4 separate regions of the Homo sapiens genome follow, and all the other regions are linked to region 1. The links come from fine-mapping of genetic effects on gene expression. A gene starts in region 1. Each other region holds a variant in brackets. All regions are shown on one strand. Distances are from middle to middle.

The links. PIP is the estimated chance that this variant, and not a neighbour inherited with it, causes the effect.
Region 2: its variant is the best candidate, but not a certain one, in a credible set for the expression of FHAD1 in nasal epithelium (TOPMed, PIP 0.58).
Region 3: its variant is the best candidate, but not a certain one, in a credible set for the expression of FHAD1 in transverse colon (GTEx, PIP 0.65).
Region 4: its variant is the best candidate, but not a certain one, in a credible set for the expression of FHAD1 in testis (GTEx, PIP 0.82).

The regions. Positions count from the first base shown.
Region 1 is chr1:15,242,749-15,250,884 of GRCh38, reverse strand. FHAD1 (forkhead associated phosphopeptide binding domain 1) reads right to left here and starts at 3,662. Exons shown (of 34, transcript NM_001391957.1): 1 at 3,490-3,662. RefSeq lists silencers at 3,397-3,636, 3,654-3,827.
Region 2 is chr1:15,411,472-15,419,471 of GRCh38, reverse strand. All of the region lies in intron 1 of EFHD2 (EF-hand domain family member D2), which reads right to left. It overlaps EFHD2-AS1 (EFHD2 antisense RNA 1), which reads left to right and starts at 7,104. Exons shown (of 4, transcript NR_183705.1): 1 at 7,104-7,566. RefSeq lists silencers at 1,158-1,277, 2,165-2,459, 7,673-7,722 and enhancers at 2,828-2,917, 2,666-3,165. The variant G/A (reference allele first, on the strand shown) is at 4,565.
Region 3 is chr1:15,269,127-15,277,262 of GRCh38, reverse strand. FHAD1 (forkhead associated phosphopeptide binding domain 1) reads right to left here. Exons shown (of 34, transcript NM_001391957.1): 3 at 4,734-4,940. Among named protein-coding and RNA genes, the nearest start is that of FHAD1, 26 kb to the right of the region's middle. The variant C/T (reference allele first, on the strand shown) is at 4,734.
Region 4 is chr1:15,357,881-15,366,016 of GRCh38, reverse strand. It overlaps FHAD1 (forkhead associated phosphopeptide binding domain 1), which reads right to left. Exons shown (of 34, transcript NM_001391957.1): 21 at 7,734-7,907; 22 at 5,314-5,539; 23 at 3,291-3,375; 24 at 84-190. Among named protein-coding and RNA genes, the nearest start is that of FHAD1-AS1, 18 kb to the right of the region's middle. RefSeq lists enhancers at 604-1,104, 3,760-3,829. The variant A/C (reference allele first, on the strand shown) is at 3,930.

The DNA of each region.
Region 1 (8,136 bases):
GAACCCTAAACTTCTATAGAGCTTATTTTATTCATTCATTCATATTTAGAGATGAGGTCTTGCTCTTTGCCCAGGCTGAGTTCAGTGGCACAATCATAGCTCGCTGCAGTCTTGAACTCTTGGGCTCAACTGATCCTCCTGCCTCAGCCTCCAGAGTAGCTAGGAATACAGGCACACCACCATGTCTGCTTTTGGAGTTTCTTAAAGAGTTATCATTGGAGAGGCAGGCATTAGATGATGTTTTTCTTTTTAAATCGCTGTATTTCTTCATTTATTTAGTTAGGGGAAAAAAGATTACTTCTAAAGGCAAAATATCAAGATTATAGCTCAGCCATGTAATCAGGACCCTGCACAGTATTCCCCCCAGCATTTTACTATAAAAATGTCAAACATACAGAGAGGCTGAAAGAAGCAGATAATGAGCTCCTATGTACCCACCACTAGATTCTACCATCGGCATTTTGCCATATTTGCTTTATCACAGATCTTTCCATCTATCCGTGTGTCCATCCATTTTATATTGTGGTGCATTTCGAAATAAGTTCTATACACATCTTTTAAGACAAACACTTCAGTGACTTCAGAAAGTTCTAAAATATTGACAGTAATTCATCTCGATGCTTGAATCCGATTTGAGATTACGTCTAAAGATGCAGTGTGATATCCTCCACCTCAATTCCTTGTCAAAGAACAACAACAGTCTCTCTCTTTTCCATTCAATTGAAAAGTCAGTGAAATGACAAATTATTGGACTATGGGTAAAAACAAAAATCAACTAGTTGTGGTGGTACGGACTCTCGGGGCTGGCTCTGCTTTTCATCATCATCTCTATCATCATTTATGGAGTCCTTAGTAAGTGCCAGGCACTTTTCCTTGAATATACTCTTTTCATCCTCAGAGAAACCCTGCAAGGTGGGTGTCATTATTGTCCCTACTTTACAGAAAAGGAGACTGAGATGCAGAGAGGTTAAGGTCCCCTAGCATTCGGGCAGGGAGATTGCCATTGCATGTCACCACTACATAATCCTCAGGCAGCTCAACTTTTCACACCTCCATCACTGCTGGGTGGGGAGGGGATGGGATGGGGGAGCAGAGAGAGTGACTGAGTGGGGGGAGGGAGAGGTTGTCACTTGGGATAGTGGGGTTGTCACTGTTTTGTTGACACTTAGGACATGAAATAACAGATAGCCCTTAACACCAGAATTCTATCCTCTGCAAAAAAAGAAAAGACCCTTGGGAGTAAGAGAAATAAAAACAAGCCAGATAGTTTATGTTTGTAAATTCCGAAGCCTATGAGAAATCCTCAGAAATATTAATACTTTCATATAATGAGAATTTTATTTTTAAGTCTGCTGTCTTTAATAGGGATAAAAAGACACTTCTTTTTCCAAAAGAACCATGCCCTGTTGCCCTCAAATTGCCTGAGTTATTAATCTTCAATTGCAGAGGACTACATCATCAAGCACCACATCCAAACTAAAGTAAAAGTAATCTAAAGTCAACTTTCGAGAAATGTCTCTTTTGTGGGAAAGCCACAGGAAATGCCTCCAGAGTAAAACCCCAAATCTGAATGACTGGCTTTTTTTTTTTTTTTAGCTCTTCCCCCCGATGTTTCCACAGCTGGTGCCTTGCGGTAGCTACCTGACCACCCCAGCTAAAGGCGTCACCAGTCACTTTGTTGTCTAGCTAGCATGTGTCACTGCTGTGGCTCCTTCCTTGAGCTTATCATTCTCTGTCATTTTCTTGTTCTTTACTTAGCTGTTTACTGTTTCCCTTTCACTGAGATACGTTCCAAGAGAGCCCAAACTGTGTTGTTTTTGTTAAACTCAATTCTCCATGGGTTTCCTGTGTTTGTACCCATCTTCAGAGCAAAGACACTGACAGATTTTGTTCCAGACAATCTTCCAAGGACATCTGTAGGGCAAATATCCTGAGAGGATAGGGATAGTGTCCCTATCCAGGGCAGAGTGCAGATTTATGATAAAAATGTCATCTCTGGCTGGGCACGGTGGCTCATGCCTGTAATCCTAGCACTTTGGGAGGCCCAGGTGGACGGATCACCTGAGGTCAGGAGTTTGAGACCAGCCTGGCCAACATGGCGAAACCCTGTCTCTACTAAAAACACAAAAAAATTAGCCGGGCATGGTGGCTTGCACCTGTAGTCCCAGCTAATCGGAAGTCTGAGGCAGGAGAATCACTTGAAACCGTGCAGCAGAGGTTGCAGTGAGCTGAGATTGTGCCACTGCACTCTATCTAGCTTGGGAGACAGAGCAAGACTCTGTCTCAATTAAAAAAAAAAAAAAAAGGTCATCTCCTTCCAGGGCAAAGGTTGGGCACTGGCTAGCAGCCCCTTTTAAAAGACTGGAGTTTCCTGAGCTTGGGGTTCCTTAGCTGGGAAACAGACTCGCAGTGTGCACAGCATCCACCTGAGCTGTCCTGCATCACCCCGGGGTACTTGCAGGGCAAGGGGAACCAACGCAAACATGAGCTCACAGTGCCTGCTGTGCTGTGAGTAATAACATCCTTTGTCTCTGGTCCTGGAGTCTCTGGTCTTCTGCTAGCATCATTAAGCAGTGGCAGGCTAACTTAGCTTGCAAGTAGTGTAAAAATCTCAGACCCTTTGCATTTCCTCACAGTCTGTTCATTACTCCCCTCTGGCCCCCAGCGCTGCCATGCCTGACACATAGTGGTGCTCAGTAAATCATGAATGAATGAAAGTACAAAACAATGCTTAAAAGTAAGTCAGGGTAGCCTAAGAACCTCTGACAGTAACTACCTTTCATTTTCCCCTTCAGTATTTATCCTAGATGACATTCTGGAAAAAAAAAAAAAAGTCTATTTCTTTAGCTGAATGGGTTGGGCCCTATTTCCCCACTTTAATCTTGCCCTGTGCAGTCACTTTCCTACCTGAAAACACTGTAGAAAGTGATTAGATGCGTTAAACTCTGTAAATTAGTTCTAAGACACAGGGCACCGACCATGCAAAAGAGCAAAAGAGCTTCAGGCATCTGCACTCCCTGCTTATAGGTCACAAGTGAGATAGAGAAGCAAAATTTCTGTTGAGGGGTTACCAGATCTTAAGTGGCCTGGGAGCCCTAGAAATTCCTCAGTGTTGTATTTGGGAAGGGAGAGGTTAGGCAAGGGGGGAGTCTCTCTGACCGCCGGGTGGGTGTCGTTCGTAAGTCAGGGGCAGCAGGGATGCCCCTCCTAATCCCAGCTGTAACCCCCAGGACTTCCCAGAGTGGCATGGCTGGTGCCAAGGAGGGTCTAAGGCTCCCGGGGGCTTCCTCCGCGGGCGGGGTGGGGCCTGCATCTGGAAAGGAGGGGCTGGTGTTGGGGTAGCTACTGGGGTGCTCCTGGGGACCGGAGCCTGGATCCAGGAGGATGGGGCCGGGGAGCCACCCCTCCTCCTGCCAGGGCTAGTCCTCGCTGGGCCGCCCCTTCCGGTCCCCGGTCTCGGCCCGCCACCCCTTCCCGCGCCGCACTCACCTGGCGGGAGGAGGAAGCCCACGCTCCGACCTCCGCCGAGAGCCCTGCCAGCTCGGGAGGCGTCGGGCCAGCTCCGGGGCGAAGCCTCCCGGCCGCGCTCCCGCGGAGTCTCCAGCTCGCACCCGGCACCCCGCCCGCCCGGCCGGCCTGTGTACGCGCGTTGCCATGGCAACGCCGCCAGGCGCCGCGGGGTCCAGCCTAATAGATGAGGGCGTGGCCTGCGCGGCAGAGGGGGCGTGGCACCGTGCAGGGAACGCCCACTGGGTTACCGCCTGCTGAATGCTCCAGGCCCCACGAGCCTGCCCCATTTCACAGATAGGAAAGCGGAGGCTCAGAGGTCACAGAAATGGCCCAAGGTTTTACAGCGAGGAAGGAGCAGGGAGGAGATTTGATTCAAGAATCCTTTCCATTACCCCTCACTGTAAGCTGGATGCGTTGAGGGAGGGTCGGGGGCGATAGGGAGAGGTAGGAGATTGATGGAGCTGAACTCATGAGACCCTTGGAGGTTAGTATGCCCCCTGCCCTACCCAAATCTCTAGTCCTTTCCGTTACAGGCCAGAAAATAGAAAGAGTAAGAAGAGGGGATCTCTGGGAGTGGGGTGGGGATTGGGAAAGGGATGGGGTGGAATGAAAAATTTTGAAAGAATGAGGATTTCTTCCATGTGCTGGGGAAAAAATATTTCCAAACTCACAATCCTGCTGCCTCTGCTCCTCCCTGTTAAGAGTGACATTTATTCATTCTTTTGCCCTTTCTCTATCTCTGCAAACATCTTTTGAGTCCTATGAGTGTCACACGCTGATCCCAGAATACACCTGGAACAGTTACTGTCCTTAAGAAACCGCTTGTCAGCCGGCACAGGACTCGCGGGATGGAGTGTGTTGAGCAGATGTGCAAATCCTATCTCCCGCCACTATCTCCAGCAGGAAATCCTATCTCCTGCTGACTCTACCTGGAGAGTGATTCCTTTCACTGGCAGGAAATGGCTGACCAGACACCTCAAGAAAAACTCTAAACGTTTTTCTAAGAGAGATGAACTATGGCACATTCTACCCTAGTGATACGGTTTGGCTGTGTGTCCCCACCCAAATTTCATCTCGAATTGCACTCCCCACGTGTTGGAAGAGGGGCCTGGTGGGAGGTGATTGAATCATGGGGGCAGACTTCCCGCTTGCTTTTCTCATGATAGCGAGTGAGTTCTCATGAGATCTGATGGTTTAAAAGTGTGGCACTTCCCCCTTTGCTCTCTCTCTCTCCTGCTACACCATGTTACAACATGCTAGCTTCCTTGCTTCCCCTTGGCCTTCCGCCATAACTGTAAGTTTCCTGAGGCCTCCCTAGCAGTGCAGAACTGTGAGTCAATTAAACTTCTTTTCTTTGTAAATTATTCAGTCTCAAGGAATTACTTTATAGCAGTGTGAGAACAGACTAATACACCTAGTCAATAGGAAGAGGATCTGAGAGAGAAATCATGGACATCGATTTGTGGTGGAATATACAGTGAAGATGCTCAAACGTGCCTGGAGGCTTTTAGAAATGCGGACTTCTGGGCACAGACCCCAGAGATTCTGATTTAGCAGGCCTGGGACATAATCCAGGAATGTGCATTTGCAACAAGCTTGACAAAACCCTGATTTATGCAGCTGAACTGCAGAGACCTCTCCCGGAGCCTGTCCCTACAAATCTCTTCCAGGCCCTCAGTCTGGAAGGTTCTGCCTGGATCAGTTTCCTACAACCAGAAAGATTCTAGGCGTAAAATGTTAGGAGGGACCACAAGGGCTGGGACCCAAGTGATGGCTTCACAGGAACAGAGAGGGTCAAGCTCAGCTTCCCACACGTTTCTGCCTCAGAGCCTTTGCTCTTGCCCATTCCTCTGCCTGGAATGCACTTCCCCTCAAGAGTCTCCTTTGCCTTCTTTACTTTAGCTTTTTACTCACATATCATCTTTTCTAAAATTGGTTTTTTGAAACAATGAAACAACCACCATGAAATCTAATAAACAACAAAAAAGAGCAAATAAAAACAATAAGAACAGCAAAAGCAAATAAAAATAAGAACAACAAAAGCAAATAAAAATAAGAACAACAAAAGCACATCCAAACAAAATAAAAACCTCAACACTCTATCCCTCTTCCCTTCTTTTTGCCACTTGCTATAGTTAGAATATTTGACCCCTCCAAATCTCATGTTGAAATTTGCTCCTCAGTGTTGGAGGTGGGGCCTGGCGGGAGGTGCTTGGATCATGCGGGCGAATCCCTCATGGATGGCTTGGTGCTGTTCCTGTAGGGTGCATGAGTTCTCACTCTATCAGTTTCCTAAAGAGCTGATTGTTAGAAAGAGCCTGGCACCTCCCCCTCGCTCACTCTCACTTCCTCTCTCATCATGTGATCTCTGCACATGCAGGCGCTACTTTCTGCCAGGAGTGGAAGCAGCCTGAGACCCTCACCAGAGGCAGATGCTGGCACCATGCTTCTTGTACAACCTGCAGAACTGTGAGCCAAATAAACCTCTTTTCTGGATAAATGACACAGCCTCAGGTATTACTTGATAGCAACACAAATGGACTAATACATCACTTATCATCAACTCACATACTATTTCTTTATTTATTTATGTTATTTATTGTGTCTCCCTCCCTGACCCCTGGTAGAATCTAAACTCCATGAAAGCAGGAATTTCTTTTTTCATGTTTTGTTTGCTGCTGTGCCACCAGTCCCTAGAACAATGTCTGAATGAATAAATATGCAGGGGGAAGCCCCTGCCACCCTTCTGAAGCCCGGCCTCCTGTCCTCTGAGGACTGCTGGGCTGACCTGTCCTCGCCCCAGGATGTCGGCTTCTCTAGTCCCCTGCCCAGGCCTGAACACCACCTCCATCCCTACCACCACCCCTCCATGCTTGTCTTTGGTCAAACTCTTGTCATTAACATGAACCCAGGACACAAACTTGCTATCAGACAGACCCCAGTGAAACCCAGGCTGGCCATGAGCTGGAACAGCCCATGCCCCTCACCAGGCTTTGAGAGATCATCTGTTGCTGTTAGCTGATATCTCAATGAAAAACAAAAAATCCTAAACTGAGAGCAAAGCTGACACTCAGAATCAGTGGAGCCGAAGTTGCCAAATCTTAATTGGATCCTCTGTCCCTCAGGATGCCACTGTTATCTCAAGGGTGTGCAAAGTTCTTGAAACCCAATTCCGTATCATCCATTTTCATTTCAAAAACAGAAAATCAAATACCCAATAACTTAGGGTTTTATGATATAATTTCCTGGGCTGAGTAAGAGAGTTGTACATTGCAATTAAACAGTGATGCGGCATTAAAAATACTGTCCCTGAAAAAAAAAAATAGATGTTTCTAGATTACTTGTGCTTCTTGGCAGTGCCTACAGTTAACCTTTTATTGAACTCTTGGTGACGACGAAGCCCATATTGTAGGAAATAAGGCTCAGAGACAGGGAGAAATCTGCCTAAAGTCACACAGCTAGAAAATCTGGCAGGATTTGAATCGAGATGAATGTGACAAGGAAGGTATTTCCCCTGGGGAACTACAGGTGACAGCTGTCACAATCACAAGATGCCACTTACTCACAACTGCTTTCTCTCACTTCTGAGCAGCCTGCACTCTTGTCTGTCCAAAGGTTCAGGCAGTGCCCAGGGCAGGGAGTGAAGGGGGCATAAGCCCAGAGGAGGCAGCTTAGGCCTGCCACCCACATTACCTGCTGACATTGGGCACTAGGCTTCGTTCCTGCAGAACTTCTGCCCCCGTAAAATCTCATTCCTTCCCAGCCACCTTCTCTGGGCTGTTCTTGCCTGGGGAGAGCCTAACCCTGTGCTCCATCCTCAGAGAACTGTGTGATGTTTCTCCTGCTGCCCTTGCATTCCAACATGAAATGAATGCTGGCTTCAGGCCCCAGCCGCGGCCAGGAGAGGTGTGGAGGCTTCCTCAGCCTCTATGGCATGAAAGAGAGCCAGAGAAAGAGCAAGAACAAGAGAGTAAAGAGTGCAGGAAATAGCCAAGCTGTTGCGCAGGGTGACGGATGACAGAGAGCAGAGGGCCCACTAGAGACTCCACGGCCCATTAGTAACCTGACCATATAAGCTTAGAAAGTACAGATTTTTATATACAGACCTACACACAGAGACTCATGAAAATAATTTCAAACCATGGAGAGAATAACTGGCAACTGAGGCTTTCTGCAGCCATCCTTGCCTTTTCCCGTGGCAGAAAATGAGAAAATATGGAGCTTCGTCTCATGTCGACTCTTTCATGCTGGTTTGGAGCATTCAGTTATCTTGCAAATCATTTTTCAAAGTCAGTTCCCCTTGGTTCCTTGCGCTTTGCTGTGGGGGGGTCTGTCTGTACCATCCGTTCAAAAACTGCAAAGTGTGCTGGCCCCACCTGTCCTGGGCCTGGTTTTTGTTGTATTTTGTTTGTGCCTCACTTCCCTCACCTGTAAAATGGGTATACAACAATCCATTTTATTGAAAGGATTAAATGGGTTAAGACGTATGAAACAATGGATCAGTGGCTGGTACAACTGAATGGCTCTATGAGTGTTTACGATTATTGCCTGTTTTCTTTTTCTCTGATGCTGTGCGAAGAGAGCCCCAATCTCAACCCAGGTCACAAACACTCTGGAGAAACTTTG
Region 2 (8,000 bases), 170 kb before region 1:
GCTGGACTGAGAGCCCAGCTTGGTGCCTGTTTGGGAAGGCCAATGCCATTCGGCAGTACTGGCAGAAAGCGCCCAGCCTGGGAGCTCAGCACTTTTCTCCAGCACCGGAGGGAGGCTGCGGGGCCTGGCACCGTGCCCGCATTCCTATCTGCCTCCCCTTGAATAGTTCTCGTCAGGGAGGGCTCAGCAGCTAGCTGCACCCTGGATGCTGGGGACAAAATCCCCATCCATCCCCCTCTCGAAAGCGGAGCAGCCAGTTACCCCCCAAGGACGACCCTTTCCCTTTGGGGTGAGCATGGTCCCCAGCTGGTTGCTTCCCTGCCCCTGCCCCTCTCCCCAGTTCTGATAACTAGGGAGTCACAGGGGTAGGCAGTGGAGGCGTCAACCATGCACAGTGCAGATGTCCCAGCCTTGCACCCAGGTGAGCCCCACGTCATAATCTATCATCATTCCTGGCTACTCTGCTGAGCACTTGCTATGTGCCAGGCACGATGCCAGGTGTTTTGCATCAGATTCTCACAAGAAGCCTATGAAGCGGCATGAACATGAACCGACAAGGAGACTGAGGCTCAGAGGGGAAGCGACTTAGCCCAGGTCATAGGTGACAAGGGTGTCGCTGGGCTCTGAACCAGGCCTGATCAAACACATGCACTCTTAACGACTATGCTATGCCCTGATGCCTATCAGGACACAGCAGAGAACTTCGGGGTTGGGAGGGATATTAGAGGCCATCTTATTCAGTCGTTCCTGAAAATCAGATTCCTGATGCAGTTCGTTGTTTAGTGCCTTGAATACCTCTGAGGACAGGAAGCTCATTGCTTACTTAAGGGGGGGCCTATCTTGGCTTTGGAACTATTAGAAAGTTGCGGCCGGGTGCCGTGGCTCCCGCCTGTAATCCCAGCACTTTGGGAGGCCAAGGCGGGCGGATCACAAGGTCAGGAGATTGAGACCATCCTGGCTAACACGGTGAAACCCCGTCTCTACTAAAAATACAAAAAATTAGCCGGGCGTGATGGTGGGCGCCTGTAGTCCCAGCTACTCGGGAGGCTGAGGCAGGAGAATGGCGTGAACCCAGGAGGCGGAGCTTGCAGTGAGCCGAGATCGCGCCACTGCACTCCAGCCTGGGTGACAGAGCGAGACTCCATCTCAAAAAAAAAAAAAAAAAAAAAAAAGTTGCTCCTCGACCAGGTGCAGTGGCTCACGCCTGTAATCTCAGCACTTTGGGAGGCCGAGGCGGGCAGATCACTTGAGGCCAGGAGTTTGAGACCAGCTTGGCCAACATGGTGAAACCCTGTCTCTACTAAGAATACAAAAATTAACTGGGTGTGGTGGTGCATGCCTGTAATCCCAGCTACTAGGGAGGCTGAGGCAGAAGAATTGTTTGAACCCGGGAGGCGGAGGCTGCAGTGAGCCAAGATTGTGCCACTGCACTCCAGCCTGGGTGACAGAGCAAGACTCTGTCTCAAAAAAAAAAAAAAAAAAAAAAAAAAGAAAAAGAAAGAAAGTTGCTCCTCGTGCAGGTGCCCCCAAGCTGCACTGCACAGTCTGATGGCAGAAGGAAGCAGAGTCATTGCAAAAACTGCACACGGGAAGGTGGGAGCACAGGGACCCCAATTCTGTCTCTCCTGACTCCCATCCCAGGCTTTACTGATGGCCGCTCTGGGCGTGCAGGTCCCAGGAGAACAGACAATTGGACAGGGTGGGTGTTGGGTATGGGCTCAGGAGCCCTCAGGCCCCCCTGGCTTCCCCAGTTCCTGCATGTCCCCACCCCCAGACTGCCTGACTCATATAGGGAAAGCCCAGCGCTCACCACTTCCTCTAGTCCTATCTGGGAATCTCACACTTGATCTCTTGCCCTAGTTCAGCTAAGTGGGGTATGGGGTTGGGGGAGAAAGAGAGAGAGAGAGAGACGGAGAGATAGAGAGCACATAAGTGTGGCGCTTGGGGCTCCCCCACGGAGGATAAAGAGGGAGACCCCAAGCAATTTGCTGGGGGGCTGTCAGGGCTCAAAGGCATCCTAACCTGGAGTTCAACAACCTCACACCGCACCCACGGCACTCCCTGCCAGCCACCCCCTTTCGCTTCTTGCTCTTCATAGTCATTATTGTTATGATAGTGATTATAAAGAATATTTATTGAATGCCTAATATTAACATAACCCAGTGTTTATAACGTAACTTAATCTTTACTCCATACATCTTATCCTCTTACAGCTCAGACAAAGTCACCCACCTAAGGATAACCTTAGGTCAACCTCAGGAAGTGGTGGGGAGACGGCTGTGCGGGGGCCTGAGCCGAGGCTTAGCGCTTCTTAAACGTCAGTGTGCACACCTGGTGAAGCTGGTTACAGTGCGGATTATGGGCTGGGCGTGGTGGCTCATGCCTGTAATCCCTGCACTTTGGGAGGATGAGGTGGGAGGGTGGCTTGGGGCCAGGAGTTTGAGACCAGTCTGAGCAACATAATGAGACCCCATCTCTACAAAAATAAAAAAAAATTAGCTGGATGTGGTGGCATGTGCCTGTAGTCCCAGCTACTCAGGAGGCTGAGGTGGGAGGATCACTTAAGCCCAGGAAGTTGAGGCTGCAGTGAGCTATGATCGTACCACTGCACTTGGTCTGAGTGACAGAGCAAGACTCTGTCTCTTAAAAAAAAAAATTGCAGATTACAGTCTGGTAAATCTGGGGTGGAATCTGAGCATCTGCATTTCTAACATACTCCCGGGCGGTGAAGCTGCTGGTGTTTGGGCCACTGTAAGGGTTCAGAGGACTTGGAGCCGGGGAGGCCCAGGTTCAAATCCTATTCTGCCCCTCACTGGCTATGTGACTTTGGACAAGTCACATAACCCTTCTGAAAGTCCAGCCTCCTTAACTGTGAAATGGGCGAGGATAATGTTGCAGGATAAGAAAGGACTGAACGGGAGGCAAAGCATCTGGTTTGAAGTGTCTGTGGCTCAGGACTCCCTGGGCGGCCCGGCTCCCATCTGGCCACACCTTTCTGGCACTGACCCCTGCCTCTCTGTTGTCCTTGAAAAGCAGAAGTCAGCCAAGGAGAAGGTTGCCCGGCAGTCAGGGGAACTCAGCTGCTCCAGGGTGTGGGGACCTTCCCTGCTGAGGCTGCAAAGTGACTCTGCCTCTGCCGGCAGGGCTGGCCTTGAGGAAACGACCTCTGACATCCCCTGAGGCAGCAAGGCCTGCTGTCCTGGAGCCTAGACTCTCACAGTGGAAGCCAGTCCAAGCCACCAGGCCTTGGACCCAGGTAGCATGGAGGAGAGCGAGGAAGCCGGAGAAGGCAGGAAGGGTGGACCAAAGAGGAACCAAAAGTCCTGGGCCGGGGGTGTGGGGAAGGAGAGGTGACTCAGAGGCTGATGCATAGTGGAAGTGGGAGGAACGGAGTAAGGACCGAGGCCAGGAAATCCTTCCTCCCCAGGGGTGCAGGGCATTCTCCCCACCCACTGACCCTAAGCTGCAGGTGAAGGACCCCACCTCTCCACCTCTCTAAGGCTCTCGGAGGCTCCCCCAAGCCCCAGCCACAAACACGGCTTCACTTGGCCTCCAGGGGCTCCTTGCAGGAGGATCTGGTTCTAATCCTGTCACTGCCACTTAATATAATCTTAGACAAGTGACAATCGCCTTGAGCCTCAGTCTTCTCATCTGTCAAATGGGGATAAAAATGATAGTATCAGGCTGGGAGCGGTGGCTCTCGTCTGTAATCCCAGCACTTTGGGAGGCTGAGGCGGGCAGATCACTTGAGGTCAGAAGTTCGAGACCAGCCTGGCCAACATGGTGAAATCCCGTCTCTACTCAAAAATACAAAAATTAGCCAGGCATGGTGGTGTGTGCTTGTAGTCCCAGCTACTTGGGAGGCTGAAGCAGGAGAATCACTTGAACCCAGGAGACGAAGGCTGCAGTGAGCCAAGATCATGCCACTGTACTTCAGCCTTGGTGGCAGAGCGAGACTCCATCTCAAAAAAAAAAAAAAAAGGAAAACAAAGACAGTATCAATCTCATTGTGCTGGTGTGAGAATTCAATTCAGTTCTCTAAATAATATGCATAGGCTCCTCCAGGAATGGCTAGAACTAGTGGCTCTGTTTAACAAGGAGGGGGCACAGAGGCAGGGGGCTGGCTACAAAGAGAACATCAGCATGGTGTCATTCATGAGAGCTTTCGGTAATCATGGCAGAAATAAAGAAAAAAACCTTCCATTGCTAGCCTTGTGGGTGCAATCCTCTCTATCCCCAAACCTCTATACATGTTTGTTCTATATAAGGCTATAAGCCTCTTGAGGGCAGGAACTTGATTCATTTAATTCTCTGGATCTTGTAGCGCAAAAACTTAATATCTGTTGGAAGAATGATCACATACGAGAACCTTGTATTTTTCAAAAACATCATCTATCATGCAAACAGCCCAGACACCATGATGGGCTCGTCACAAAGACTCAGGGTGTTTTTATACCTAATCCTCAGAACTTTACCAGGTAGGTTCTTGAGCCCCAGGGGAAACTGAGGCTCAGAGATGCTGAGTCCCTTGCCTGGAGCAACCCAGCTGGGTGGTGGCAGACGG[G/A]AATCCCCATTGTGCACCCTCCAGAGCTGTTGTTTGCTCTCCCCTTTTTTGTGCCACCTGCCTTCCCTGAAACTAGGTGATAATGAATTCATTTCTCCCTTTTTGTTATTTATCAAAGCCATATGTAGCTGTCAATCAGAGTGGCTGTTCAGCAGGAGAGAAGGAGGGCTCTAACCCTGCGTCCTGTCACTAGGGCCCAAAGCAAAGGGTTGTCGACAACCTGGCAGACCTGGAAGCTCCGCTGGTGGTTAAGTGGAGGCAGCCAGTGGGCACTGTGGAGCTGCCTCTGAGCCAGCCGCAATGACCACTGCCAGGGCCCTATGAGGGGCCCAGGAGAGGGTGTATGCTGAGCTGGGGATGGCGGTGACAGTCATTTAGTAACGACTTGCTCTGTGCCAAGCACTGGGCTAAGCGCCATACAACAACCCTGTAACGTGGGTCCCCCTGTCCCCGCTGTTCCAGCGTGAGGAACAGAAGCTCAGAAGGGCTCCACAGCCCACAGCTGTATTCAAACCCAGGGCTGCAGACTCCAGAGGCCCTGCTGACTGCGTCCAGGAAGGGCTCCTGGGAGAGGTGTGTCCCCTGGAGGTGGAGGTGTGGAGAAGAGGGCGGGAGGCTTCCAGAGCTTGTGCAGGGAAGAGCTGGCCAGAAGGAAAGGAAAGCCTGCCTCTCTGACGTAAGGTGTCCTGAGATGAAGTGGCTGGGGATGACAGTGGGGACAGGGCCTGCAAGGCTGTGCTAGGCGGGAGACAGGGATCTAGGGCATCGTCCTCAGATTCCACGGCAGGTTCAGAATTACACGGCTGCCTACCTTTCCAGCAGGTCTCAACTTACAAAACCCTCCAGAGCCCCCGCTAGGCTGTTGTCAGCCCAGGGGTGGGCACTCCCGAGGCTCTCCAGGGCCATTCTCTTTGCCTCTCTGACAGGAGGGTTCCAGAGCCAGCCCTGGAGGAGCAAAGAGAGGGAGGGAGCAGCTGGGGGATCAGAGATGCTGGACGTAGCCTGAGGCCGCACGGAGACGGGGATGGAGAGTCCTGGCTGCGAGGGCCAGGGAGACGCAGAGCCTCCTTGTGCCTGGCACTGGCCCAGAACTCTAAGTGTGTCATGTCCTCGGAGCCCCACCCTGAGACACCGGGACCACTCTCCTCATCATACAAGGTTTCAGCCTCACTGAGAACCTCTCCGTAACCCCGAGCAAGTCACCGCCACATCTTTCTGGGTCTTGGTTCCCTCTTCTGTCAAATGGGGAGAGGGGTTGGAGTCAACCCTTCAGGTCTCTCTCAGGAGGAACCTGAATGACTCTAGGTGTGAGACCAGTGATGGCTGACAGTCTGTCTATCTTCCCCCATCCCCTCTCTTCCCCCTCGATCTCCAGCCTCAGGAAGTACCTGCTGAATCAACACGGAGGGGTGGACCAGAAGGCCCTGGAAGGCAGTTCCAATATCCAGAAGGGCTCAGGACCCCTCAGACATACGCAGGTCAGGGCTGAAGGACCTTTGGGGGTCATGAGGGATAGCCTGCCCCTTTTACAGGTGGGTAGACTGAGGCCCAGGGAGGACAAGCAGACTAGGATGGAAGCCCAGGTTCCTCGCTCCTGGCCCCCAAGGAAAGGCTGGCTCCCATTCTCCTGCTGACCTCATGGTCTCCTGCCTCCTGCTCTAGTGACTGGCTTCCCAGGAGGGCAGGCTCCCCTCCTCTCTGCCCTCTGCTCTCCCCAGAGCCCTGGCTCTGATGCCCTGGCTTTGATCCTAGGACCCTGCTTGGACCCAGGAGGCTGCAGCCCCACTCGGACAGCGGAAGCAGAACGGGGGTTTGTCTTCCACGAGAGCCCGTCTGTTGGCGGCGGGGTTGGGCTCGGTTGGCACAGTGAAGCGTTGTTTCCTTGAATACACAATCTGCAGCTTTCCACCCTCACCCGGGCCCTGGCAGGCAGCACTTGCTTCCCTAGAGGTCCAGCTTCCTGGCCCCTGCCTGCCCCATCAGCCCTCCTAGAACCCTGGCAAGAAGTGCAGGTGCCAAGGGGTAGCTTGGAGGGGTCCAGCTCCCCTCAGTCGCCCTCAGAGTACCTCTCATCAAACTAGACCAGAAACAGCCTATGTAAAAAAAAGTGAGTTTGCTGCGCAAATGAAGCTTCCAGACTGTTCCCTCAGCTGCATGCCACTTCCAACCACACTGCAGCCTCCCAAGTCCCGCTCATTTGAAGTGTCTGGGTTCTCCCAGAACAGCTCCATCTTTGTTTTGGTGGCCAGTGGCAGGGAAGCTGTGGAAGCCCAGGAGAAGGCAGGCTCTGGGGGAAAGGAGAGACGGGGGCTGGGGTTGGGGACATGAATGGACAATCCGCCACGAACACGGAAGCGGGTGTTGGAGAAGGTTTTCCAACATGAAAGTAGATGTCTGTGATGGGAAACCCGGAAGGGGAAGAGCCCGGGATTTGGAGTCACAGACCTGGGTTTCAGTCCTGGCTCTATCATTTTCTAGCTGTGTGGTCTTGGCGAGTTATTTAACACCCTTTGTCTGCACAAAGGTGACGAAGAGCTCTGTGTCACAGGGCTGTTTGAGGGACCTGGTGAGCGCCTCAGCACTATCAGCACAGGGATCTCCGTGGTGTCTGAATCAGCTCTGCACTGCCCGATGGGGGCAGTGACAGACAGTGATCCATACCCACCCCTGCGTCTGCCCACCCAGGAGCATTCACGTTACTCTTCCAGGAATCCTGGAAATCCTGCTCTCCCAATCTCGCCAGTCTTCTGCTGGGAAGAAACTTTAGAAGAACTCCAACCAAACACCGTGGAGCCAAGGACGTGGGCGCCCTGGGACTTTCTTGAAGAGGTTCTGGGCCCTGGGACTTTCTCAAAGAGGTTCAGAGGGGCCGGGGGTCAAGGACTTGATTTTCCCCCAGAAGGACCTTGGGAAAGTATGGGACTCCTCAGCCACCCGCAACTGGGAACCAGAAATCCTTCCCCCTGCCTTGGGGCCAAATGCAGAAGCTGCTGCAAGCTGTGGTGAGTAGGGTCAGAGCCTTTCTCAAACAGTGCAGTTGCAAAACGCCCCTTCCTGGGCTTCCGGCTTGATGTTGGGGCACTGACAGCTGCATGTGGCTGAGGCTGACACCCCTGGTCTGCCCCCACCTCCTGCCCAGCCAAGCGGGAGCCGGCCTTGCCGCATCCCTCCCTCAGCCCTGGGCTGCCTGTGCCAGGTGGGGCTAGACCTCCTGGCTCACCCCCAAGACTCAGCCTCAGGCCAGTTCTATCCCCTTCCAGAACCACTCCAGACCAGCACCCAGATCGTGGAACGAGGCTGTTCCCTCTCCAGGAGCCAGGGGCAGGGGGACAGGGAACAGGAGGTGGGGAAAGCTACCAAAGGGAGGGGCACTGGCACCTTCCCCATCCCCTGGGCACACACATGGCTGGGAGAGAGTGGCTGTGCATCTTAGACC
Region 3 (8,136 bases), 26 kb before region 1:
TATGGGCACTCTTTATGTTGGGCAGGATGTCATGAGGTTGCAAGAGGGTCGAAGGACTGCATCCAGAAGTCATGTGGGAAGCTCTGGCTGGAATGGGAGCAGGGCAGAACAGGCCAACGTAGGTTTCCTTACCTAGCTGCTTTATAAGAACAGCACTAGTGTTCACAGGACAACCCTCACTCACAGCTCCTTTCCTGGAAATCATAAAGCACTAAAGAAACCAACAAGCAAACATCATAATGGCAGAAACAACGCGGCAAGCACATCTGACTTTGTGACTTGGATTTCACACGCCTGACACTTAGGCAGGGAGTCAGTGTTACTACTCAACAGTTGCTTCAGGGCATCGCAAATGGCCCTGTAGGTTATGCCTCGCACAACTCCAGGGGGTGCCATCTTTGTGGACTCTACTGTGAATGGTGACTGGAGTTGTGCAAGGTGGTGGCCCTAGGCTATACTTTTTTTTTTTTTGAGAGAGTCTCACTCTGTTGCCCAGGCTGTGGCATGATCTTCGCTCATTGCAACCTCTGCCTCCCGGGTTCAAGCAATTCTTGTGCCTCAGCCTCCTGACTAGCTGGGACTATAGGTATGTGCCACCACGCCTGGCTAATTTTTTGTGTTTTGGGTAGACATGGGGTTTCACTATGTTGGCCAGGCTGGTCTTGAACTCCTGGCCTCAAGCGATCCTCCTGCCTTGGCCTCCCAAAGTGCTGGGATTACAGGCATGAGTCACCACGCCCGGCCCCTAGGCTATACTTTGGCAAAAAAGCTATGATATATAACGTGTACTCTTAAGCATATCGTGGGTGCCAATGTACTTTGTAAACCAAGAGTTTCTTTCTGTTTTTCTACCTTGTATGTCACTCCATGGGTAAGTTATTTGCAAAGGCATCCACCTGGTAGTTGGGAGGTCTTGGGAGGTTTTCTGTCCATGGGAAGGCTCACAGTGGAGGCAGGTGGCTGCTAGCGTGCTCCTCTTACCTTCCTGCTATCATAGGCACCAGATACTGGGCTAAGCAATTTGCAAACAATGACCCGTTTACTACTACAGTAACCCCACATGAGGAACTATTAGGATTCCAATTTTACAGAAATGGGAACTGAGGCTTTGAGAGGTGAAGCAACTTGTGCATGATCCCACAGCTGGTCAAGAGCAGGGCAGAACTGTGTGGGGCAGACTCACTTGAACTTCAGGACACCCACGCTAGCCACTGTGATGTCTACAAACACATTTGGGTCTCTAACTTCTGCCTCCACCTCCCATTTCCTATTGAAATGGCTGTCACGTCCCTCTCTGTTGGTTATGGTCACCACAAAGCCTGAAATAAATTTTTCTGTTTGGGAACTCTTTCTTGGGAAAAGAACAGCTAAGCCTTACAATATTAGGACAGTCCTCTTCCAAAGGAAACAATCCTTGAAAACTCTACCGCGGGGAAGACACAGCCCCCTCTCTAGGGACTCAAAGAATCAATAAGAGACAAGAGCATGCTGGAATCAAGACAGCTACACATTTCTTAGAAAAACTGGACCCCAAAATGAGATGAGATTTGATGAGAGACGCTCTTCACTACCTCCTTTTTTCTTTTTTATAGCTCACAGGTCGAGGTCATCAGGCAAATAGAAAGGGAAGCCATCAGAAAGAGAAACTCAGTCCACATGGCTGCCCTCACTCAGGCCTGCAAAGGACCCTTTGTCACTAAGAGGAAGCCTGCACGAATGTCTCTTGATCTAGGAATGCTCTGAAAGGGAGCCGAGAGCAGTTTTGTGAGGATGGGGTGGAGGCGGACAGGGGGTCTTCTGAGGAAAACCTGGCAGGGACAGAGGCTCGGCTTGCCCCCTGGAAACGCTCGGGCTGCTGTGAGGTACTCTGGGCATGGGCCAGGGGGCAGATGTCTGGCTGCCAAAAGTCCCTTAGCTAATAAAGCAGGAGGCAACTGCATGTAGAAATAAGAATTTTTAAAATTCATGTACAGCCAAGTGACTGTAAAAGTGTGCTTTGTTGGCCAGGCGCGGTGGCTCACGCCTGTAATCCCAGCACTTTGGGAGGCTGAGACGGGCGGATCACGAGGTCAGGAGATCGAGACCATCCTGGCTAACACGGTGAAACCCCATCTCTACTAAAAATACAAAAAATTAGCCAGGCATGGTGGTGGGCACCTGTAGTCCCAGCTACTCGGGAGGCTGAGGCAGGAGAATGGCGTGAACCCGGGAGGCTGAGCTTGCAGCGAGCCGAGCTCGGGCCACTGTACTCCAGCCTGGGCGACAGAGTGAGACTCCGTCTCAAAAAAAAAAAAGTGTGCTTTGTTGTCTTTGAAAACCAGTTGATGATACTGCTGCACCTAGCAGCTGACCCAATGGTTTTCTCCCAATTGTTACCTGCAAGTGGAGACAGAGTTTAATTCACAGTGACTAGCTGTGTGGTCCTGGGCAAATTACTTAACCTCTCTGAGTTTCAGATTCCTTGTCTGCAAAATGGGGATCATGAGAGAGCCCATGCCCTAGGCTGTTGCATTAAATAAGGGAAAGCAGGTAAATGCCTTAGCACAGTGTCCCTCCTGCTCCTCCTCATTATTCCATTATAATAACTCTACCGTTCTCATTCACTAACAAAATATAAACTATTATACAAAACAGAATCTTTTTTTTTTTTTGAGGCGGAGTCTTGCTCTGTCACCCAGGCTGGAGTGCAGTGGCATGATCTCGGCTCACGGCAACCTCCACCTCCTGGGTCCAAGCAATTCTCCTGCCTCAGCCTCCAGAGTAGCTGGGACTACAGGCGCCCGCCACCATGCCCAGCTAATTTTTTTTTTGTATTTCAGTAGAGACGGGGTTTCACCGTGTTGCCCAGGCTGGTCGCAAACTCCTGAGCTCAGGCAATCTGCCCGGCTCGGCCTCCCAAAGTGCTGGGATTACAGGTGTGAGCCACCATGCCTGGCCAAAACAGAATCTTTTATAATACATTCTTTTGCTCCTTCAGAAGTGAAGGTTGGACATCTTTACCACTGGGTGACACACTTATGTGATTAAAACAAAATACCCCTCCCCAAATTTGTACACTTAGGTTCACAGCTGCATCATTTGCAATAGGCAAAAGGCGGAAGGAGCCCACGTGTCTACCCATGGAAGAACGGATAAGCAAAATGTGGTCTCTCATACAAGGGAGCATTCTTCAGCTTTCAAAAGGAAGGACAGTCTGACGCATGCTACAACATGGATGAACCTTGAGGACTTGGTGCTGAGTGAAACCAGCTAGACACAAAAGGACAAATATCGTATGATTTCGCTTATACAAGGTACCCAGAGTAGTCAGATTCACAGAGACAGGAAGTAGAACGGTGGTCGTTAGAGGCTAGGGTGAGAGGGCAACAGGGAGACAGTGTGCTCTTGTTTAATAGGGGCAGAGTTTCAGTTTTGCAAAATGAAAAGAGTTCTGTGGATCGACGGTGTGACAGCAGCGCCACAATGTGAATGCACTCAACACTGAACTGTTCCTTAGAAACGGTGAATACGGTGAATTTCATGTTATATGTATTTTACCACAGTTTAAAACATAAAAAATTGCACAAACCAACACAAAAAGTCAAGTATCTCACAGGTTTCTTTCTAGGATGTACATGGTGATGGCAATGTTCTGAAAGTGGCTTGTGGTGATGGCTGCACCCCTCTGTAAATATACTGAAATGTGTTGAATTGTACGCTTAAAATGGGCAGGGTTTATGCTGCATAAATTATACTTCTATAAAGCTGTTCAAAGCAAGGAAGCAAAGAAATGCTAAGGTCATGAGGAACCCTGTAGTGTGACGGGTGCACTTAATGTCTTGGTTGTGGCAATGGCTTCACAGGTATATCCATGTTCCCAAACCTAGCAAATGATGTACTTTGGACATGTACAGTTTTACTGTATGTCAACTATACCTCAATAAAGCTGCATTTTAAAAAAAAGCAGCATAGTTATCCACATAAGAATGAACCCCTTATATTTTATTAAACAATGCCCCTTTTGATGGGCATTTAGGTTTCAAATGTTATGCCACTACAAATAATACTTCAATAAATACCTTTGTATGAAAAAAAAGAAATAGAGATATTGTGCATCCTCCTCCTCCCCCACTGGCAAGTCACAAAATTAGAATCTCCCATGGAGGGGCCCCGGGAACCTGTAATTTTACTGAACAGTCCCCCTCAAATTCTGATAATCAGACATGTTTAGGGAAACACTGGCTCGGACTTCACAGATTTGGCTTTTCAGGCGCTTATGTGTTAAGAGCGTCTACTTGGACACTGAGTTTCAGGCTCTACAGACATTCTCTTGATGCCATGTGCCGTCAAGAAGGCAGAGACCTGGGCATATGAAGAAGTCTGGCCCAGGTCACAGAGCTAGGAAGGAGCAGCGTGCTCATCTACCTAAAAATGAAATCCACCTCTGCATTTTCAAAAGCACACCTTGTTTTCCGCCTCCTCTCAGGAAGTTGCACATTTTTGGAAAACTGGTTCTATGTGAGCCAAGATGCAACTCCAAGAAATGCCCAGAAGAGGGTGCTAAGATTCTCTCCTTCCTGGGACCCGCCAGAATGACTCAGAACTCCACAGGGTCCACTCTGTCTCTGCTGCCTGTGTGCAGCGTGCGATCACAGTGGCACCAATGTGGATAAGCGCCACCCTGCAGCTGCATCCGAGCGCCGGGCTGCACGAAGGCGACATGGCCCCTCTATCCCCCAGTGGCCCGGACTCAC[C/T]GGAGGTGGATTTTCAATGACCAGTTCATAGGTCAGCCCTGCAGACCCAAATCTCAGGATGTCTCCAGGGATGAGCTTCACAGCCACGTTTTGAATGTGGCACTCGTTGACAAACGTGCCGTTGCGGGAATTGAAGTCCTGGAGAACAAAGCTGCACTCCGCCTCGTTATATTCAATGAGTGCATGGTGGTTGTCGATGTCAGGAGACTGCAACGGAGAAGGAGGACAGTCGTAGCCATGAAAACAAAAATGACACGGCCCCTAATGTTTTGAGCTGAGTGCCTTACCTGTTTTGCCGCCGCCAGATCATCACGACAATCCTCATTTTAAAAGGAGGAGGCTGAGGATCAGAGAGGTTAAGCGACTTGCCCAAGGCCACACAGCTAGTGTGTGAAGGAGCTTGGGATATGTGCTCTGTCTGACACCAGACCTGGGGACAGGTACCTAAGTTGTTGAGTGGGGAAATCAGGCAACACAAAGGCAAAGGGATCTTGGGAGAGTCATATTGGACAAATATGGGACCAGGGAATTGGCCATTTTCTTTTCTTTTTGTTTTTGTTTTTATTTTTATTTTTTATTTTACCAAAACCGAAAATCGTCAAGGAATTGGCCATTTTCTTTTTCCCTGACTCCACATGGGTATTTATGGTGGTACTCAGTACCAGGACAGGAGGCAAAAATGGCCCAAACAAGAAATAGAGAAAAGTACTAAAGAAGCCATTACCGTTACTTATAATCCCACCCTCACCAGTGGCAGCCATGGTTAACATTGAGGTTCACATCCTTCCACGTTTTTTTTCTATGCTTACGTCCTTTTAAATTTTTTTAAACAAAATTAATCACACCCTACATACATAGTTTTATAACTACCTTTGAAAAACCTTGATGTACAATAAATATTTCCCATGCGATTAGTTATTTCCATTGCTTTTTAAAAGCTATTCAGGATTTGCCTAACCACAGATGGCCCGCTTTTCAAAAGGGGGCTTGGTGTGACCATGTTTCCCCAAAGGAAAGGGGCCCCAGCCAGTGTGTCTGCAAACTGATGGCAAGGGACAGAAGCTCCTCTGTAATTTCACTTTAATAAGAGGACTGAGTGAAGCTCAGCACAAAGGAGGTGACTGCATGTTCCCCTGGTTGCAGGGCCCTGGAGGGATGAAGGGAAATGTTCTGACTGTGAGCTGCAGGGCACACTGAAGTCTTCGTCTTTTATTTTTGAGACAGAGTCTCGCTCCGTCACCCAGGCTGGAGTGTGGTGGCACGATCTCGGCTCACTGCAGCCTCCACCTCCTGGGTTCAAGGAATTCTTCTGCCTCAGCCTCCCGAGTAGCTGGGACTACAGGCATGTGCTACCACGCCCAGCTAATTTTTTTTTTTTTTTTTTTTTTTCCGAGATGGAGTCTCGCTCTGTTGCCCAGGCTGGAGTGCAGTGGTGCGATCTTAGCTCACTGCAAGCTCTGCCTCCCGGGTTCACGCCATTCTCCTGCCTCAGCCTCCCAAGTAGCTGGGACTACAGGCGCCTGCCACCACGCCTGGCTAATTTTCTGTATTTTTAGTAGAGGCGGGGTTTCACCATGTTAGCCAGGATGGTCTCCATCTCCTGACCTCGTGGTCCACCCACCTCGGCCTCCCAAAATGCTGGGATCACAGGCATGAGAGACGGGGTTTCACCATACTGGCTAGGCTGGTCTCAAACTCCTGACCTCATGATCCGCACGCCCCAGCCTCCTAAAGTGCTGGGATTACAGGCGTGAGCCACCGTGCCCGGCCAAAGTCTTCATCTTTTAAGGGCACTGTCAACCAGACATCCATGCCAGCTTGAGACTTTGCAACTATTTTCTAAGTTTATCTTCTCAGGGTGCCCTGTCCAGCTTTTATATAAAAGTACTTGCATGTAGACAACTAAAGTTCCATCATATAACAACCTAGAGCTTATATTAATAATAGAATATATTAATATGTATACTAGAGTAACAATAAAACATATTACTTACACATTACAAGCCAGGAGATTGCTTAGTGCTTTATTGCATTGCCCTATTTCATCTTCACAACAATCTAGAGATAGTTTCCCATTTGGTAGATAGGGAAACTGAGACACAGAATGAATTTACCCAAAGTCACCCCGCTTGACAAGTCACCTGGCTTGTACTCAGGTTCGCCTGATTCAAATGTCTGTGCTATTAGCCACTTTCCAAGTTTCCACCAAACACTTTGCCACCCAAAATATTAAAATAAAAAAGAAAGCTGAAGTAGCTATACTAACTGCGGCCAAGGCAGTTTCAGAACAAGAAAAACTGGGGATAAAGAGAAGCATTAGGCCAGGTGTGGTGGCTCATGCCTGTAATCCCAGCACTTTGGGAGGCCAGGGCGGGCAGATCCCCTGAGGTCAGGAGTTTGAGACCAGCCTGGCCAACATGGTGAAAACCCATCTCTACTAAAAATACAAAAATTAGCTGGGTGTAGTGGTGCACACTTGTAATCCCAGCTACTCAGTAGGCTGTGGAAGGAGAATCACTTGAACCCAGTAGGTGGAGGTTGCAGTGAGCTGAGACCATGCCATTGCACTCCAGCCTGGGTGACATGAGTGAAACTCAAAAAAAAAAAAAAAAAAGAGAGCCATAAATAATGGTAAAGGGGTAATTCTCCAAGAAGACATAACAATGCTTGATGTGCATGCACCTAACAACAGAGTGCCAAAATACACAAGGCAAAAGCTGACAGAACTGCAAAGAAAAACAGATAAGCCCAATATGACAGCTGAAACTTCCACAACCCTCTGTCAGTAATTAGCAGAGCCAGCAGGCAGAAAATTAGTAAAGGCATAGTTAAACTGAACAACACCGTCAATCAACAAGATCTAATTGATATTTATAGAACACTTAACCCAACAACAACAAGGTGCACGTTCTTCTTGGGCTGACATGGAACACTCACTAAGCTATACCACATTCTGAGCCATAAAACACACCTCAATGAATTTAAAGGAATAGAAATCATGTAGAATATGCTCTCAGACCACAATGGAAGTAAACTTGAAATCAGTAACAGAAAGATAGGTGGAAAATCCCAAAACATTTGGAGATTAAACAACACATTTCTAAATAACACACGGTGAAGGAAGAAATCTCAGGAGAAATTAAAAATTATCTTAACTAAATGAAAATGAAAATACCACTTAAAATTTGTGGGAAGCAGTGAAAGCAGTGCTTACAGGGAAATTTATAGCCTTGAATGCACACATAAGAAAAGAAGAAAGATCTGAAATCAATAATCAAAGTTTCTACCTTAGGAGACTAGAGGAAGAAGAGCAGTATAAGCCTAACATAGACAGAAGAACTGAAAGAAATATTAGATCAGAAATGAATGAAATTGAAGACAATAGAGAGAATCAAAGAAAACA
Region 4 (8,136 bases), 120 kb before region 1:
TGCGCCCGGCCGACTCTTTAGCCTCATCTCCTTCCTTTCTCGAGTGGGTCAGGAGGTCAAGAGACACCAGAAATTGTTCAAACCTCTCAAATCCGACATTCTGCTGTGGGCTTCGGTAAGGTCTTTCCTTAACTTCATGATGACTTCCTGCTGAGACAGAATTTCCTTCTGAGCAGCCAATAAGTCATCTCTGAAATTCACAAAAACAGGTGAAGTCAGTTCAACTCAAACTCCATGTTATCTCCTGAGTGTCAGGAGGGGCCAAGTACAAATGCAAAGAGATTCTCAATCACGGTCCATGCAACGCCAGTCCCAGCAAAGGATGAGGACAGTCTTCAAAAACTCTAAAAGAAAAACGACTTTTTTCATGCACCTCATTTAAGAAAATACATTAAGGCCAGGCACCAGGCATGTGCTTGTAATCCCAGCACTTTGGGAGGCCAAGGCTGGAGAATTACTTGAGCTCAGGAGTTCGAGACCAGCCTGGGCTACATAAGTCAGAACCCCGTCTCTACAAAAAAAAAAAAAAAAAAAATTAGCCAGGCATAGTGGTGTGTGGCTGTTGTCCCAGCTACTCGGGAGGCTGAGGTGGGAAGATTGCTTGAGCATAGGAGTTGAAGGCTGCACTCCAGCCTGGGTGGCAGAGCAAGAACCCATCTCTAAGAAAAAAAAAAAGAAAGAAAGAAAAAAGAAAATCCACTGAGATAGAACACAGGATCTGGCTGAGTTGAGTCTGCGGCTCAAACATGCCTTGCATGAGACTGATACCCACTACCCACCATCATGAATGGATGTGCCTGTGGACTTCTGATGGTGGAGGGACATGGGAAGACTATTTTGGGGAGGTTCAGGGATTCTTTGGGGACAGGGAAGAAAAAAGAGAGGAAGACAATGTGGCTTTGTTCTCTCAGCAGCCCCTTTGAATTCCTGGTGGAGAGAGGTGGGGCCAGATGTGAATGAATGGTGTTCTTCTGGGAGCCAGTGGAAGTGTGGCCCAGGCAACAGGGGCCCAGGCAACAGGGGGACAGTGATGGTGATGGGACAACTTCCCCTCCCACACCCCTGGAGGGCAGCACACGTTTGGTGCCCTGAGACTCAGGATGGTTGATGGGAGGGAGGCTGCGCCCAGTGGAGAGGTGAAGGGCGCCCAGCAGGAATGGCAGGGGAGGCGCCTTGGTGGGGATTTGACTGGAAGAACACAGGGTGCATGTCTCAGCAAGTTGAGAAACTGCAGCCTGGCGGAGATAGGTCATGTGTGTGCTGCAGGGAGTGGGTCTTGCCCTTTTGGAAGGGGGTTAGGAGCCTTAGTCTTTGCAGGTATTAATGCCACTTCATTTGAGTTCACAGGCTTTTGAAATCCAGGCTCTTCTTATAAAGACTTTATTTTTTATTTATTTTTATTTTTTTGAGACGGAGTCTTGCTCTGTCGCCCAGGCTGGAGTGCAGTGGCGTGATCTCAGCTCACTGCAAACTCCACCTCCCAGGTTCAAGTGATTCTCCTGCCTCAGCCTCCCAAGTAGCTGGGACTACAGGCATCTGCCACCATGCCTGGCTAATTTTTGCATTTTTAGTAGAGACGGGGTTTCACCATGTTGGCCAGGCTGGTCTCAAACTCCTGACTTCAGGTGATCCACCCGCCTCGGCCTTCCAAAGTGCTGGGATTACAGGTGTGAACCACTGCGCCCCGCCTTATACAGACTTTAGAAGGTACTGTGTTTATTATGAATTAAAGTAAAACACTGGCAGGTTGCATGTCAAACAAACAAACAAAAAGACTGGTGATCATCAGAATGAAAATAACTACATAGATATAGTATATTCTGTGTGTGCATGCATGCGTGTGTGTCCACGTGAGTGTGTTCTTGGCTGCAACCACAAATCTTCCAACTTGAGGATAAAACCTTAGAATTCAAGCATGTTCACACGCCAAGGAAGTGGACCAGAGCAGAGCTGGGTGGTGCTGAGTCTTCTCCAAGTCATGGGCACCACCGTTTCTAGATTTTAAACAGGAGGAGGAGTCAGGAACTTTTCACAATGCGGAGGCTGAGTATCCTTGTCTTTTTGGGGTAAAAACCCTGTGACATTAGACTTCGGTCACTAGGATTTGGTGCAAGGGTCAGGCAGGTGGTTCTCCTCTTGGGGGAGCTTCTGAATCCCTCCACTGCATCCCATCGGCGCCTCCTTCTTTACGTGCTGCTTTCTGGATCTTTCCCATTCATACGTTTGTTTCTCTGAAAACTGTCAGTTCTTTGAGGATAGACTTCTTTGTAGACTCACTGGCTTTCAGGGTCAGGAGAGTTGAAATCATTTATTTAAGGTCACTTAGCCGACCCCTTAACTTCTCACCCTTTACAGGGCCCCGCCCCACCAAGTGGTCTCCACTGTTTGAAATCTCTGTCTGCTTAATAACACCTGTGAGTGGGCTTGCCTCTAGCTGATCCTCGGGAAAACTAGCTAATAACAGTATTAGCTAGATTTCCCAAGCACTAGGCATGTACAGCCTTACTTCACAAATGTGGAAGCTAAGGCTCAGTGAGGTGGCGTGACTTGCCCAGGGTCACACAGCTGGAGTGTTGAGTTGGGATCTGCTATGTTTGAATGTTCATCCCCTCCAAATCTCAAGTTGAAACTTAACCCCCAATGTGGCAGTATTGAGAGGTGGGGCCTTTATAAAGCGATTGGGTCACGAAGGTACAATTATGGATTAATAGATTTGTGGACTACTGAGTTAGTGGATTAATGGGTTATCATGGCAGTGAGACTGTGGATTTATAAAAAGAGGCAGGGAGACCTGAGTTAGCACGCTCAGCCCCTGGATGTGATGCCCTGCACCACTCCCAGACTCTGCAGAGCCCCAACAGCAAGAAGGCCCTCACCAGATGCAACCCCTCAACCTGGGACTTCTCAGTCTCCATAACTGTAAGAAATGAATCTCTTTTCTTTATAAATTACCCAGTTTTGGGTATTCTGCTATAAATAGCAGAAAACAGTCTGAGGATCTGAATGTAGGTCTACCTAAATCTTTCCACGACACTGCCCTGCCTTGCTGAAGGAATGGGGAAGTGGAAGCAGCACTGGGAAGGCAGCAGGCCTGGCTCCTTGTTTGGCTTCTGACAATGTGGTCTGGGCTGAAGGAATGGGGAAATGGAAGCAGCACTGGGAAGGCAGCAGGCCCGGCTCCTTGTTTGGCTTCTGACAATGTGGCCCAGGTAGGGGCTGGTTGCCTGTTTGCCCCCACCCAGGTGGTGCCGGTGAGAATGCCTGGCGCTCACACACCCACGGGTACTCACATCAGATGTTCGTACGCCATGTCTTTGGCACTGCTCTCTGTCATGGGAGCCACCAGAGGGTCTTGCGGCCTTTCCTCCTTTGGGGCTGTATCAGAGGGACATGTGATCATTGTGAGAGGAAACTGTCCTTCCCCTTTGCTTACAAGCACACCTGTGTCTTTCACAACTTACAAACCCTGCCTCCACCTGCAGCCCTCTCCACCTTGTGAGACCTGCACGTGTGCCATGTCACAGGCTGGGGGCTCTCCCCAAGTGTGTGGCCATGCAATCTTCCCAGCTACTCTAGAAGGCAGGGGCCATCAAATCCACTTACAGACAGGGAAAGGGGCACCGGAGTGATGGAAGCTGCCGGCGACCCACTTGGCTAAGCTGGTGAGCAGTGCAGTCTCAGCCCCTGGTCCCACCGCCTGCCTGTCTCTCTTGGAAGAAGAATCTGTGTTTAGCGCCTTCCTCTCCTCACCTCCCATTTACACCTCAGTGCACCGCCTCTAGCGTCCTGTCTCACTACTCAGTCACATGTTCACTCACTTGTTTATCCTCACGTGTTCACTCACTTGTTTATCCCTTCAACTAACATTTGTGGAGTGCATACTGGTCTAAGTACGGGGGTGACAAAGATGCAGTCACCCTTCAGGTCCC[A/C]GCTCAATCTCAAACACCCTCCCTCTGACCTGGACGTCACCCTTCAGGTCCCAGCTCAATCTCTCTCTTTCTTTTTTTTTTTTTTGAGACAGAGTCTCGCTTTGTTGCTAGGCTGGAGTGCAATGGCGCGATCTCGGCTCACTGCAAGCTCCGCCTCCCGGGTTCAAGCGATTCTCCTGTCTCAGCCTCCCGAGTAGCTGGACTACAGGCGCGCGCCACCAGGCCCGGCTAATTTTTGTATTTTTAGTAGAGACGGGGTTTCACCATGTTGGCCAGGATGGTCTCGATCTCTTGGCCTAGTGATCCGCCGGCCTCGGCCTCCGGAAGTGCTGGGATTACAGGCGTGAGCCACTGACCTGGCCCCCAGCTCAATCTCAGACACCCTCCCTCTGACCTGGACTCTGGATTGGGAAACTGAACTCCACTCTTTGTCCTTGTCATGGTGCCCTATTCATCCTGGATCACCTGTCAGGGCAATAATTTTGTTACTACGGGGACAAAATCTGGTTTGTCCATCATTGGATCCTGAGTGCCTACATGAGATTGGAACATAACAGAAGCTCCACCGAGAGAGCTGAGTGAGTGAATGAATGAGGTAAGTCCTGATGGCTTGCCAGCTTGCTGGGGACTACAGCCATGTTTCTTAAGCAGGAGTGAATTTGCCTCTAGGGGACATTGGGCAATGTCTGGAGATATTTTTGGTTGTCCCAACTGGGGTAGGGGTGCCACTGGCAACTGATGGATGGAGGACAGGGAGGCTGCTAACACCTGATAGTGCCCAGGACAGTCCCATCCATGAAAAAATGATCCTGCTCCAAATGTCAACAGGGCTGAGGCTGGGATACCCTGGCCTGAGTCCTCTACTTCCAGAACTTTCTTCAAGAGCTTACAATAATACAGCTTACCTTGGCCATTTGGGGCAAATAAGTGCTCACAAGTCTGAGTTCTTTTTTCAGCCTCTTTAGGGTTAATTTTTTAAGGGATAAATCCTGGCTGGTAATGAGTGCATTAGTGAAGATGCAAAAGGCCGATGGCAGAGAGAAACCTTTGAAAGGCCCCTGCATGAGATGTTTTCATGTGGAAAAGATGATTCCACTTCGCGCTGCCCTCGCTGGCCCTGACAGCCCCGGTAGCCTGTGTGTCTCGCCGGCTCACTGAGTAGGCACAAAGGATGTCCCAACTCATTGCCATGACTTCTGCTGAACCTGGGCCTCGGAGGGCTTCTGACATCGTTGTGTAACAAGAACAAAAGGGGGCCTCAGAGAATGAATGAGCTTTCGAATGAGGCACGGCCTTTTTCTTAGCCATCAGCCTGTTGGGACCCAGCGGACAATCAGAACCTGCCCCGAACACTAAGATTTCCTTGGCCTCCCTTCGGACTTACCTGGGTCATTGTCCTTCAATGTTGCAATCTCGCCTTCTATTTTTTTATGGTGCTGAGTGACTTTCTGGAGTTTCTCTTCGAGGCTCACAATTGTCTGGGCGTGCTGTTTGATTTGCTCCTTATATTCCATGATCTCTTCTTCAAACCCGTGTCTCTGTGATTCCTGCTCATCCTGGAGGGCCTTTACCATCTTCTGCTGCAGGATTAGCCGCTCTTCCACCATGATCTGGGAAACAGAGAGTCACTCAGTGAGGTCTTGGGAGCTGTGTATGACGGCAACAATAATATGCCCCCTGGGCACACACATAGGTGCTAAACTGGGCCCCACCCCAGGGCCTTAGCACATGCAGTTCCCTCTGCCCTGTGCACTTCTTCCCCAGCTCCTTGCATGGCCAACTCCTTCTTGACTCTCAGGGCTCAGCTCCAGCATCACGTCCTCTGAGAGGCCCTCCCTGACTACCTATCAGGAGTAGCCCCAGACACTTTCTGTTCCAGCGTCTGTTTCATTGTCCCTGAAGCCTTTAATTTTGTTTCTTTGTTTCTCTTCCCCGCTAGAAATGTAAACTTTTTGTTGTTGTTGTTGTTTGTTTTGAGACAGAGTCTTGCTCTGTCACCCACATTAGAGTGCAGTGGCACTATCTTGGCTCACTGCAACCTCTGCCTCCTGGGTTCAAGCGATTCTCCTGCCTCAGCCTCCTGAGTAGCTGGAACTACAGGTGTGCGCCAACACACTCAGCTAATTTTTTTTTTTCTTGAGACGGAGTCTCTCTCTGTCACCCAGGCTGGAGTGCAGTGGCGCGATCTCGGCTCACTGCAAGCTCCGCCTCCCGGGTTCACACTATTCTCCTGCCTCAGCCTCCTGAGTAGCTGGGACTACAGGCGCCCGCCACCACGCCTGGCTATTTTCTTGCATTTTTAGTAGAGATAGGGTTTCATCATGTTAGCCAGGATGGTCTCGATCTCTTGACCTCATGATCCGCCCGCCTCGGCCTCCCATTAATTTTTGTATTTTTTTTTTAGTGGAGATGGGGTTTTGCCATGTTGGCCAGGCTGGTCTCAAACTCTTGACCTCAGATGATCCACCCACCTTGGCCTCCCAAAGTGCTGAGATTACAGGTGTGAGCCACTGTGCTCAGCCAGAATTTGCATTTCTTAAAAACAAAAAATTACTAATGACCCCCGAATGGCAAATCTGCTGCTTTCCCATGCCTACAACCTCCTAAGGCTCCCCTTGGCGTTTCCATCCCAGCACCTCCTCCTCACTGCCCGCCTTCTGCTCCCACCTCACCCTGTCCTGCTCCCTATTCCCAGGTGACGTGCTGGGCCTTGGCCTCTGATCTACCCATGACAGATACATTCTTTGCCCGAGACACTCACACATGCCTGCTCTTCCAAGGACCCTACCTAAGAGGCTGCCTTCCAGATTAGGCTCTTGTCTTGCTTTCTCTCCCAAAACTATTGTGCACCCAAATCTCGGGAGCTTTTGGACTTTGATGCCCTATCCTCGCCTTACTCCTCTTGTCTCCTCTTCTCCAAAAGAGGGTCGCTCCAAGAGAACCCCCCACCATGACCCCAGACCTCCATACTCCCATCCTTATGTCGTCCCTATGCCATCAGGTCCCCAGGCGCCCTGGCCTGAAGTGTGCAGTCTCCTTCGGCACTGTCCTCTCCTTGGTGCTCACGTCCTGCCAGCAGTTATCAAGTCCTGCCATCGTAACTCTCTCCAGAGACTCCCTTCCCCCCACGCCTCCCCCAGCTCCCGCCAAGGTCAGCTCCTTATGATTCTGGTCTACACCACGTTCCACACCCAGAGCTGTTCTCTCCAACGCCACACCCTCGTGAAATTTACTCTGTGCTCTTCTGGGAGATTCACCTTCATGAATTCCTTGCCCAGAAACCTGTCGGTTGAACGTGTGGATGACAGAGGGAATGCACATCGAGCCCTAATTGTGGAGGGCCTCGAATGCCGAGCCTACACTTTAATGCATTGTCTTAAAGCCTGTGGAATCGTCACTCATCACTCAATCCTGAGGCTCTCCAGGCGTTCTGATCCTGTGAGGACCCTGCATTACAACATCTCAGAACACCGTGCAGAGAGGGCATCCTAGCTCTGTGTACATTTCGTTCTAAACCAACGCTTCTCATTAGGGGTCCATTAAGGGACACTTGGCAATGTCTGAAGACATTTTTGGTGATCACGACTGTGGGGAGAGGGCTCCTGGCATCTGGTGGGTAGAGAACAGAGGTGGTGCTAAATATCCTAAGATGCTCAGGACAGCCCCTGACAGGAAAGAGCTACTTGGCCCAGAACATCAGCAGTGCTGAGGCTGAGAAGCCCCGGTCTAAACCACACATTCTCGTGGCACTGTAATCTTCCATTGAGAGAAAAATTCTCCCGTTCCCGGAAGGCACCGACTTACCATTTTTGTCTTGGTAGTTTCCAGTTCGGCTAATGTTTCATTTAATTTCAAGGCGAGGCTCTCTGCTTTTAGACTTTCAGTTGCCTTTGTTTTCTGAGTCTCTTCAACCATGGCCAGTGCGTCACTTAATTTATTATTTAAAACGTCCTCTTTTTGCTCTTTTAATTCTAATTCCTAGACAAAAAAACAAGTAGCAAAATAACAGACATTCAGGAATACATATTTACCCAGCCCCCTTATCCCCCACCTTCAAGGACAGGGTAAAGTCTATTCTCTAATTATTCTGTCGATTCTTTTAAAGCACAAAGTCCATGCCTTCTCTGGAAGGTTCCAATTATTATAGAACTCGTCTTTATATTCAGCGGAGATCTGTCTCCTTGTGATTTCTGGTCTCTGAGCTCAG